Linked DNA regions of Homo sapiens: regions 1 and 3 are each reported to be linked to region 2. The links are microRNA targets in miRTarBase. Many come from high-throughput screens and were not tested one by one. Region 2 holds a microRNA gene; each other region holds the end of a gene's coding sequence.
The links. The annotated mature microRNA hsa-miR-3165 reads AGGUGGAUGCAAUGUGACCUCA and lies in region 2 at 2,337-2,358, opposite strand. An mRNA with a match to its seed (bases 2 to 7 or 8) in the 3' UTR can be bound and repressed. Matches are read on the target gene's strand: a 7mer-m8 pairs with bases 2 to 8, a 7mer-A1 pairs with bases 2 to 7 and ends in A, and an 8mer does both.

Region 1 (4,000 bases), not on the chromosome of region 2:
AGTTAAGTCTGTATCATTTTACTTTTTTTATAGTTTCTTATTTTATGTTGTATGAGATGAAAAGCTTGCACATAAAAGATGATAAGAAATTAGAATTCATCGTTTCTGTTGTACCAAGAAGAACCTTAGTGATCTCTAAAAGAATTGTTGTTAAAATATGGATTCTTCTTTCCTTCTAGTACTCCCCTAGCATGACAATGAGCGTGTGATCCATTACCAAGTCTCCTCATGAAAACCACAGTGAGTCAGCCCTTCACAGAACTACTACGGAAGAAAATTATTCATCACAGTGTACAGTTAAACAAAGGAATCTCAGTCACACCAAACCAACCTTTTTATTTCCTGCTCTCTCCCCTCTTTTGTGAAGAAAGCGGGTCCAAATGTGATTCAAACAACTGTACGGAGTGGCATATTAGAATTGCCCTAAACTGAACTGCAAATAATTATGTGTGTATGTATATGTGTGGGAAAGAGAATGTACTGTATATGTGTATGTTATACAGACATATACACATACATACATTGACCCACAGGACATTGTAAAATATTATCACATGACATCTTAAGTAGAAATAAGTAGGGACTTTTATTCCATCCTTTTTTTCACGTTTACATTTTAATTATTACAAGTTGCTCCTGCCCCCTCCCTGAACTATTTTGTGCTGTGTATATCACTGCTTTATATAAGTTATTTTTTAAGGTGAACTCAGATGTTATGGTTTTGTAAATGTCTGCAATCATGGATAGGAATAAAATCGCTTATTTGAGAGCTTTCATTAAATTGCGTCTGATGCAAGTTATCCTGTGAATCACAAAGTGTACTGTCTCAAAAAATAGAAGAAAATGTGTCTTCGTCTTTATGTTGAATCAAACAATTTCTCAGTTACCTTCAGTGAAAAGTATTTTTTTAATTTTTATTTGAGAAAAACACTTCAAATCAGTAAAAGCTTAACTGGGGCCTCACACAGTATATTTCTGCAATAACTGCTTTAAACGGAGTTCTTGATTTGTTTGTCTTAGATGATACAGAAATCATTAAATAGCCCAAATCATTTAGACCATAGCAATAAAGTGACCGGGGTTGTCATATATTTAGCAACATCTTTTCTCTTTAACATGATGAAGCCCAAAAGTGATAACAAAAGCATTTGCTTGAATTTGTCACTTCTCACCAGGAGTACTAGAGGTAAATTTTTAATAACATACTAATGTGAAATGGTATCTGGTTTTTATTCAGACTTTTTGTGAGCATATTCTTATAGACACTAGAAATAAATACATAGAAGGAGACTTTGAGCACAAGGGAGAAGAGAGTTATTAGCACTCCTGAGGCCTCTGGAATGCTGCTTTTCTATCCAGGTATCTTGCTTGCTACCAGCAGAATTGACTGGTATTGGTTCTCACTGGCCAGGGAGCCTCTGCTCTGTTCCTGGAATATAAGGCTTTTATTCAGGAGCAAATCATTGATAGTAACTTTGCTTTATCTAGCCATTGACTTCAGCAGGCTAAAACTACATTGTGTAACTGACTGTTCAAAAAAGAATAAGTAAATTTTTTTTAATCTAATTCCCTTATGGAAAGCACCTTGCTCTATGGCACTTTCCAGATCTTTTGGGATTTTGTGCTTAATTATACATACATACACCAAAATCACAATAGAAAGATATGAAGACTTTAATTTTAGACTCTGAAAGATAACTGGGTGATCCTTTGTGTTAAAATTGTGATACAAACAACCATTGATAAATACCAACTATGAATCCAAACTCTAGAGACTTTGAAAAGCATTGTTTAATTGCAGGTAAGAGGAATCTTCTCTTTCCTTTAGGCTTATAGTCTCTAAAGTGAAAATTTGGCAGGATATAGTCATGCAGCTCATAATGACATTCCAATCAACCACAGACTGCATATACAGCAGTGGTCCTATAAGATTATAATACCATATTTTTAGCATATCTTTTCTATGCTTAGATACACAAATACCATTGTATTACAGTTGCCTTTGGTATTCAGTACAGTAACATGCTGTACAGGTTTGTAGCCTAGGAGCAATAGTTTATATTATATAGCCTAGGTGTGTAGGAGCCTATACCATCTAGGTTTGTGTAAGTACACTCTATGATGTTCAGACAAGGACAATATTGCCTGACAATGCATTTCTCAGAATGTATACTTATCATTAAGTAACATATGACTGTATGTACTAGTTCCTGATGACTTACTTCTCTCAAATTCATAATGATTTAGTCCTTGTAAAAATAAAGATTTTGCCTGTGCCTAAACAGGGATACTAGGCAGAACTGTTGAGAAAAAAAAGCTGAATTAAATTTATGTTGCAGATTTAAACTATCATAAAATGAGCCTCAGTTAATCACACACAGTATTCAGGTGCCTAGGAGTGCACACCGGAGAACAGCCTCATGCTGTCAAGCTGCAGAAACCTTTCATGCAAATTCAGATGAAAAGGTCTTTACCTCAAGCCAGGGTAACCTGAATGAAGGTGATAGTTTGTCCAGACACCTGACTTTACCAAGAAGAATTTTGACTTTCATATTTTATGACAATCATATAAAAATTGACAGTCCTTTGATTATTAAGCTTAATCTTATAATGCTAGAATTTTCAAATATTTTGTTGACTCTTCTCCATTGTTACCGATCTTGAAATTCTTTTCTTCGCCTTCTGAGAAGGTATTATTTCTTATCACAAAGAATGATGAATATGATTTTATCTACCCTTATTTTGGGGGTAATACGAGAATATGAATTGCATCATGATCCCCATTATTTCTAACCTAAAAGTAAAATTCGTTTTTTTTTTCAAGGCAGAGCAGTCAATTGATTATAAGTATTTATTTCTTTTTTCTTCTTGGAGCCCAGATTAAAAAGAGTTATTTTAGATTTAAAAATTTCCTGAAATAGTTGAAAAATTATTTTTGAGGAGAAAATTGTATCCAAGAAACCCAGAATGTAAGGATACTTGATTTTTATATCCAGATAATTCTTTCATGCACTGAATGGAAGACAGTATATCTGTATATTAATTTTTGTTTAGATTTTGAATCATTTAACCCTTATCCTTTTTTCTTGTAATAAGACTATTTAATGTTTTTCTCTTGTGTTTTCCATCTTTATCAATGCATTCGTGTTGGTCTTGATGTATACTACCTGTTCCTAGTGTTATTTTTACACGTCATCTCACAGTAATAATATCAGCAATTCTTGCTGCATTGAACATATTAAATACACATGTAAAATGAAAAAGTAAGCAGTAGGTAAAATCTTGTTACTCTGCTTTGCATTCTGCCTAACTCACTGCATTTGAAAATACATGTCAAATTCTTTCTGAGGGTATGTATGATTCTTAACTACGTGTCTTACAGCAAAGTTGCCCATGGGAACAAAGGCTGTAGGGTGTCATTGATCTTGTAATACAACACATATTTGATGGGTGAATCTTATTAGCACTCCTTTGAAAATGTTCCAGTATGGAGTCAGTTGCTGATAAAGAGGAAGTTCACAGCTAGGAATCCGAAGTTAAGATTTCTCAATTGCCGCCTGGGCACTCATGCCTGTAATCCCAGCACTTGGGAGGCCAAGGTGGGCAGATCACCTGAGGTCGGGAGTTCAAGACCAGCCTGGCCAACCTGGTGAAACCCCCCCATCTCTACTAAAAATACAAAAATTAGCCAGGTATGGTGGTGGCTGCCTGTAATCCCAGCTACTCAAGAGGCTGAGGCGGGAGAATCACTTGAACCCAGGAGGCGGAGGTTGCAGTGAGCCGAGATTGTGCCACTGCACTCCAGCCTGGGTGACAGAGCAAGACTCCATCTCAAAAATAGAAAAGATTTCTCAATTGCCAAAAAGATTAACAAGTAAATCAATTCTGCTCCCCCAGCCATGAAAAGTGCCCAAAACAGCCCTTTCCCTCCAGAATAAAATAAAACTTCCATTTCTATTTTTATGATTCTCTAAGATATCTGAACTCCATTGCATTTCAT
Region 2 (4,149 bases):
AATGATTATTCATTCCCCTAACCCACCCACTCTTAGTGAGCTCAGCCTCACATTATCCTGGGCAACCCCAGCGTTCTGTGGATCAGACAGCAAGCAGAAGGGAAGCCATGCAGGCCAGGTCAACGGGGTGAGTCAGTGGCAGAGCAGGAAGAGTCACTGGGGCAGAAATTCTGGCCTTCTGTGGCAAGACTGCCAAGCCACACCCACACTTGGTCAGCACTGTGAAGGCCCTGCCCTGTTAGGATTTCAGTCTTTAAGCCAGAAAACTTCTTCCTCAGGAGGCCCCACACCACTCTCATTTTCAAGTGTCTCTCCTCCTGCTCAAAAATCTTCCAGTTTTCTTCTCCCTAAAGCATCATATCTAAATTCTTTGGCTTAACTTTCCAAATCCTCCATTATATGGCCTCAAGTCATTTATTCAACCTTATTTCCCACTATTCTACAGAATATACTCTGAATTGATCAAGCCAGTCTTCCCACTTCTCTCTGCGTGAGCCAAGCCTTTTCTCATTTCCCTGCTTTCAATTATCCAGGAGTGGTAAATTCAAACATCTTCAGGGGTCAGGCAGGTAACAGAAACAAATTATCCAGGCAAGGCCCAGTGGCTCACAGCGGTAATCCCAGCACTTTGGGAAGCCAAGGTGGGCAGATCGCTTGAGCTCAGGAGTTCCAGACCAACCTGGGCAACATAGTAAAACTCCGTCTCTACAAAAATACAAAAAATTAGCTAGGTGTGGTGGAGTGTGCCTGGGTCCCACCCACTTGGGAGGCTGCAGTGAGCTGAGACCGTGCCACTGGACTCCAGCCTGGGCAACAGAGCGAAACCACGTATCCAAACAAAACAAAATGAATGATCCAGTGGGGCACATGGCAGATCTAGGAAACGCTGCACCCCCCTAAAGGCATTCAAATATTTTAATTCAAATATTTATGTAGTGTCTCACTGTGAGCATCACGATAACCTTTTAAATAGTTATTAATACTCTATCTTGCAAATGAGAAAACTTCCCCAAGGTTAGGTAACTGGCAAAATGCTGGGCACAGTCTCTAGACCTGTCTGATGCCAAAGCAAGAGCTCTACACCATTAGGCTTCTAGCAGTGCAAACACCATGGAAGATACAGAACCCTCAAAGTCACTTTTCATGATACACAACCTTAATAGTAGGATGGGAAGCCCAAATCACAGCTTATCTAACCATATCCCAACTGCCTCCAATTCTGTTCATTTTCCAAACCCCATCTTTCTGCCAAAGTATTTCATTCCTAGTTATCCAAGTCCTACTGAATTCCTTCTTCTGTAAATTCCTATAGGGTTTATAGATTAGACAACACAAATAAGTGCTAAATTATATACTGTCTTGCAAAATCAGATACTGCTTCTATGTATTTTAGTGTCAGCCTCATCAATCAAACTATTGTATTAATCTATATAGTTCTTCTACCAAAAATGCCTAACCTGAATCTAATCAAGAAGAATCAGACAAATGCTATGAAAGACAAAAAGGCATTCAGATTAAAAAAGAACTGTTCAAAGTTAAAGCAGACTAAAGACATGATAGTCATGACAACTAAGTGCATAAATACATGCATGATCCTTCAATGAATCCTGAATTTTAAAAAACTCAATAAAAGACATCACTGGGAAAAGATGAGAAATCTGAACAAGTATTATATACTGGATGTATTGAATCAATGTTAAGTTTCCTGAGTGTTAATAGTACTGTAGTTATATAGGAAGATACCTTTTTCTTAGGAAATACTTGCTGAAATAGGGATTAAATAACATGATATTTACATCTAACAGTCAAAAAGATTCAGAAAATGAAGGATAAATAGACAGCAAATTTGGCAAAATGTTAATAGTGACTCTAAATGAGAAGTATATAAGTATTTGTTACATTATTTTGCAAAATATCTATAGGTTTGAAAATTTTCAAAATAAAATAATTTAGTAAGGAGGGAAATCCTGTATTATATACTTTTTTATATACTCAGCTCTGTGACAGATATAATAGGCACTCATTACTTTAGGTATCTGCTCACTACCTAAGGAAACTGGGCATTTGGAGGTCAGCAATCAGACAGAGTCCACTTTGCTGCAGCTCATGAGGGGTATAGTAGGAAATTCTTAGGGAATAAGAGGTTTCTCCAAAACTCACATTGTCACACCACAGGAAATCTAGAAAAGCAGGCAATTACCTCACTCCTCATTGAGGCCATCACAGAAGTACAGGCACTGAACAAATGCCCACTCGCTAGGCAGAATGCAGCTGCTGCCCACACGTTAGTACCCAGTGGTAAGGTGGATACAATGTGACCTCAGAGGACCAAGAGTTGAGGTCACATTGCATCCACCTTGCCACCGGGTACCAAAAATTTGACAATCTGCAAAACAAGTGTCTCTGGCCAGTCACAGGAAGGCACTCAAGTATCAAATAAACATGCCTGAAATATATGCAGTCTTTCCTCCTCACCAGATAAACCAGTCCTCAGCTGCAATAAGGCAGAAGAAATCTGCAAGGCTGAATCACTGGTATTTCCTGTGCAGACTTCAAAGAAACTGGCCCTTCAATAGGACAGAAAGGGCAGGCGACACAGCTGCCAACAGAGGCCTCAACCCAGGAGCATGCTATGCAATAATGCCTTCTCTCCCTTCTACAGCCATCAGATACCTCATTTTTACTTCTGCCAAATGGCCCCTTATTACCGCGACTGATTACCTAATAGCCAACCCTTTACCTTGGTTCTCTCCTCCCCTCAATGAGACCCAAGATACTGGCCTTTCTAGACAGCTCCTCCTCCAATTTGCCAGAGGAATTGTCAAAACTATTCCCCTGGCCAGGCACGGTGGCTCACGCCTGTAATCCCAGCACTTTGGGAGGCCAAGGCGGGCGGATCACACTGTCAGGAGATAGAGACCACGGTGAAACCCCGTCTCTACTAAAGATACAAAAAATTAGCTGGGCGCGGTGGCGGGTGCCTGTAGTCCCAGCTACTCGGGAGGGGAGGCTGAGGCAGGAGAATGGCGTGAACCTGGGAGGCGGAGCTTGCAGTGAGCCGAGATCGCGCCACTGCACTCAAGCCTGGGTGACACAGAGCGAGACTCCGTCTCAAAAAAAAAAAAAAAAAAAAGCTGCCTAGGCCAGGCACAATGGCTTACACCCATAAACCTAGCACTTTGCGAGGCCGAGGCAGGAGGATTGCTTGAGCTCAGGTGTTCAAGACTAGCCTGAGCAACACAGCAAGACCTTGTCTCTACTAAAAATCAAAAAAATTAGCCGGGTGTAGTCCCAGCTACACTACTTAGGAGGCTGAGGTGGGAAGACAGCCACTGCACTCCAGCCTGGGTGACAGAGCGAGACCCTGTCTCAAAAAAAAAAAAAAAAAAGTTGCCCACAGTAGGAGGTAGAGGAGAGGCCATTATTAAGCACACTCTCAGTAAACCATGAATCTGACAGAGCTACCCAAAACATCAATGCAGTCTTAAGCTGCATTAGTAGAAGATGACTCTATGCCCCACCTTTGAAGAGCAAAGTTAGAGGACTTGCAGAGGAAGAACACCAATGACCATGGCAAAGGGTCTAGAAGTATATCATTTCAAATATGGAGGAAGAACTACACACTTTTAGCCAGGGGAGAACAAGAAAACTTTTTTCAAATATACGCATAGCTTTCACATAGATGAGGAGAAAGACTTATGAGTCCACTATAAGAATACAAAACCAGAACTAATGAGTGGAAGTTACAGGAAGACTGATTTTGGTTTGCCACAGGGAAGAAATTTCAGCATGTTGTAGAAGTTCAGAATGTGGGATGTAGAACCCAGAATGCTTGGATTAGGATGTCAACTCCACCACTTATAAACTGTGTGGCTTTGGGGAGATTAATCTACCTGTGCCTCAGTTGCCTTCCCTGTAAAAGAGAATAGTAATAATAGAACTTAGCTCACAGAGCTTTAAGAAGTAGCTTCCGAGGCTGGCTGCGGTGGATCAGGCCTGTAATCCCAGCACTTTGGGAGGCTGAGGCAGGTGGATCACCTGAGGTCAGGAGTTCAAGACCAGACTGGCCAACATGGGGAAACCCGTCTCTACTAAAAATACAAAAAAAATTAGCTAGGCTTGGTGGCGCATGCCTGTAATCCCAGCTAC
Region 3 (4,000 bases), not on the chromosome of region 2:
CGGGATGACTGGCAAGGTTAGCATATGGACTGCAGATCACGCTGCTGTGTGACGGTCGGGTCCCTTGACTTTAAGAGCTGTGCTGTGGAAACACAAGGGAACACTCTGCTCCTTGTTCTTGGGAAAAAACCAAAGCACTAAGGGACAGAGAAGTGGGATGCCGACAACGTATGAAATGCATTTCCAAATGGCTCTAGGAAAATTTAATTTTTTCACAGAATCAATACCTCGGCAAATGACTCTGTACCCTCCTGGTGTCTTCCCGTTCCTTGTTTTGTGTCATCCTCACAGCTGTCAAATGAAACGACTCAGGCGAAGAGCTCCAACCACGGCCCTCTCCGTGCTGAGCATTCGCTGCCTCCACTGCCACATGCACGGATTCTTAAAAAGCGACGAAAGGGCGGAACCCTGACTTCCTCCAAGAGGGGCAAGCCCAGGACTTCCAGGCACAGGCAGTGGGCGACCTCGATGTCTTTCCAGGTGCTCAGTTCTCCGCATTCTGCCCTGAGGGAGTAGGGGTGATCCGACTGGCATCACATATCTTGAGATATTCATTTGCATAAACACAGCGGCACCCAGATCTTGGCTTCTAATCCCACCCTCCAGTAAAAGGAACCAGGGGTCCTTGGAGAAATGGGTCTAGGACTGGAGCAGGGAACGCACAGATGAGCCTGGGTGTCCTGCAGTGCCAGAAAACCAGGCTGTGCCCAAAGAGGCAGCTGTGAACAGACCCCGGAGGCCGGCAGAAAGGGCTCCCTGTGGCCAACACTGGAAAAACCTGAGCAAGAAAGTAGGCTGGGCGCGGTGGCTCACGCCTGTAATCCCAGCACTTTGGGAGGCCAAGGCAGGTGGATCACCTGAGGTCAGGAGTTCAAGAACAGCCTGGCCAACATGGTGAAACCCCATCTCTACTAAATATACAAAAATTAGCTGGGCATGGTGGCAGGTGCCTGTAATCCCAGGTACTCAGGAGCCTGAGGCAGAAGAACTGCTTGAACCTGGGAAGCAGAGGTTGCAGTGAGCCGAGATCGTGCCACTGCACTCCAGCCTGAGCAACAAAGGGAGACTGTGTCTCAAAAAAAAAAAAAAAAGAAAGAAAAGAAAGAAAATGCATGGCGAAACATGGGTCACATCCCAGAGCTGAAATACAGCACAAGAGTCCATACAGATGTCAGTAAATGATGGGATAAATAAATAAATAGGGAGAGGAGACAATCTTTCTTCCAGAAGAATTGCAAATAACAGAGGTAGATGCTCCTGCTCCAAGAGGTGAACGTGATTCCATGCTCTTGCTTCTTTGAGGGTGGTCTGGGCTGAGACAGGCTCCCAAGGAATAGAAGGAGAAGAGGAAAAAGCAGGCATTTCATGGGAGACAGCAGGCAGACATCACCTGAGCAAGTGATGAAGGTTAGCGGATGTCGGGCACCCCACATGACTCCTCTTCCCAAAAGCACACATCCCCAGTCTCATCACACGAAGATCGTCTTCCCTGGACTGGGGACCTGGATTGGGGAACATCCTACAAGATAACCAGCAAAACTCCTCAAAGCCACTAAGGTCATGAAAGGCAAGGACAGACAGAAACCATCGCAGGACGGAGGGGCTGGGAGACGTGAACAGCAAATTCATCTGGTGTCCTCGATGGGTCCTGGGACAGAGAGAGGGCACTGGGGGAACCCAGCGAGGTCTGAAGGCCACCCGGAGGTGAGGCCATCGTCTCGCCCCACAGCAACGCGAGACGTGAACAACAGGAAGACTGTGGAGTCCACTGGGCTCTCTGCGCCGTTGTAAAGACACTTTACTGCATGTCTAAGACTATTTCATTCTTTTAAAAAAAAAGTCTTTTAAAAAATATTATAACTCAAAACTATGGAGGCAGTAAAATGCTCAGTGGTTGAAGGGAAGATTTTTAGGGCAGAGAAAAGACTGTGCATGATGCTACAATGGTGGACCTGAGTCCTGATCACCCGACCAAACCCACAGAGCCAACAGCACCAGGAGTGTGCCCAGGGTAAACTCCAGCCCCCGGCAATGCTGACGCTTCAGTGTGGGTGCAGCAGTTGTAACAAGCGCCAGAAGCGAGCCCAGGGTAAACTCCAGCCTGCGAGGATGGTGACGTGTCAGTGTGGGTGCAGCGGTTGTAACAAGCACATCCCTCTGGTGGGAGGTGTTGGTAGCGGGGGAAGCTGTGGTGGGGGTAGGGGTTGGAGTGGAGATCTCTACCTTCCTTTTAACTTTGCTGTGAACCTAAAACTGCTCAAAAAGGAGGTCTATTAAAAATAGTATATATGGCTTCAAGAAATTCACAACCATTTGAATTATTTCCCATGAACCACGATTGCTAAACAAAAATGACTGTTTAAACTGGAAAATAAACAAAATCTGTTTAACTAAATCAAGGTCAAACTGAGACTGTCTGCGCCTACCCTTGCCAAGCACGCTTTGGAAAACGCGGCTGCCACCACGCAATAAGAACAAACTCCGCTCAAGTTCATCTGCACGACAGAAAAGGGAGAAATAACAAAAATAAAATTCTTGCTGATACTCACTTTACTGCCATGGAAACCAGCTCAGCCAGCTTTATGTTACTGGGGACATATTTAATTCTCAGGATTTGTATTATTACCTTAGAAAAATATAACAAATTCTCGTAAAATTTGGATTGCCCTTAATGACACAGAAAGGTAAAACATTCTTAATTATCAAAGCTTTTTCTGTTATAAAGCAACAATAAAACTAAAATATTGAAATGGGATTTTTATGCCAGAAGAATTTCAGCCTCTTTCCAAACAAAGGAGGAAAAAGTTCAAAGAGAGGGTATGTTCCTCCTAAACACGTTTTTTAACTTCACCAAGAGGCCTTGTGTAGGCAGCCAAGTTTTTATTTTTCCTCCATGGCTACTGCAGTGATCATTCTGAATGAGTGCCTTCTTTCTTTTGAAATCCCTTCCTAATTCATTAGCACACTAAAAAAGAACAGAGCCATCTTTGCATTTCATTTTCCTCTACAGAGACTTTTAGATCCGTGGTATAATCACTAGGTGGCCTTTCTAAGCCTTGCACAAAACGCACACTTCTTAGGACTGGTGCCGTCTTGGGTGCCGCTGGGGGCCAGCAGCCCAGCCCCGTGGGTCGGAGGGGCTTTGGGGGTGTGATTCACCATGCCCTGCTCTCTGGAGGGTGAGTGCACTATCTGCACCCCACCAGCCGTGAAAGTGCATGATAACCCATAATTAAACAAGCCAGGGGGTGAGCAGGGGCAGGTAGGTGTGATTTGGTACAGGAAAACCACAACAAGGTGATTTTTAAACTTTTATTTGCCTAAAGCAAGAGAAAACAAGCTTAACCAGGTAACACATGCTTCAAAGCCTCGACAGCCAGGATTTCAGAGATGCTAGATCTCGCGGCCCCCCAAAGAGAAGCACGGTGGCTTCACACAGACCGCCACATGCTGCACACGTCCAGGTGCCACACCCATGTGCCCACACCCGTGAAAATTCTAGTGTGTTGTCTGCCAACCCACTCTCTGTCAGGCATCTGCCGTCTACCCTCGTGTAAATACACGTTGTTCAGTCTTGTGGAAAACATTAGCTTTCTCCCTTAGACGGGTATAAAATATTCATCACCAAATGCAAAAATCAAAAGCACAATGTGTGATCAACTATCAGCCCACACAGGACACCACTCGGATGCCAGCTGCTCATTTGGAACAAGCACACAGCATTCCTGTCTCTGCCAAGCATATTTTCCCATCTCCAGGCTAGGAAAACGCCTTCACTGGCCTGCCGCTGAGGCAGACGCGGGGATGAGCTTGGGCTTGGCTTGCTGGGGCGGGGCCATGTCCGGGATCTTCTCCCCGTGTTTGTACACGCTCACTGTCACGTCGATCTTCTCCCCGCCATACTTATTCTTGATGTTGATGCTGTACTTGCCCGAGTCCTCGGAGGTCACGCCTTTGATGGTCATGCTGACGTACTTGGCCTGCTCCACCTTCACCGAGA

Region 1: the mRNA of SSBP2 is a reported target of hsa-miR-3165. The part of its 3' UTR that is shown has no 7-base or 8-base seed match.
Region 3: miRTarBase lists MYOM2 as a target of hsa-miR-3165. The part of its 3' UTR that is shown has no 7-base or 8-base seed match.

What each region holds. Positions count from the first base shown.
Region 1 is chr5:81,416,713-81,420,712 of GRCh38, reverse strand. It overlaps SSBP2 (single stranded DNA binding protein 2), which reads left to right. Exons shown (of 17, transcript NM_001256732.3): 17 at 180-4,000. The coding sequence ends at 209. Among named protein-coding and RNA genes, the nearest start is that of ACOT12, 25 kb to the right of the region's middle.
Region 2 is chr11:72,069,936-72,074,084 of GRCh38, forward strand. MIR3165 (microRNA 3165) reads right to left here and starts at 2,367; the gene lies at 2,293-2,367. The region is part of intron 1 of NUMA1 (nuclear mitotic apparatus protein 1); the gene reads right to left.
Region 3 is chr8:2,144,755-2,148,754 of GRCh38, reverse strand. MYOM2 (myomesin 2) reads right to left here. Exons shown (of 37, transcript NM_003970.4): 37 at 3,299-4,000. The coding sequence ends at 3,774. Among named protein-coding and RNA genes, the nearest start is that of MIR7160, 70 kb to the right of the region's middle.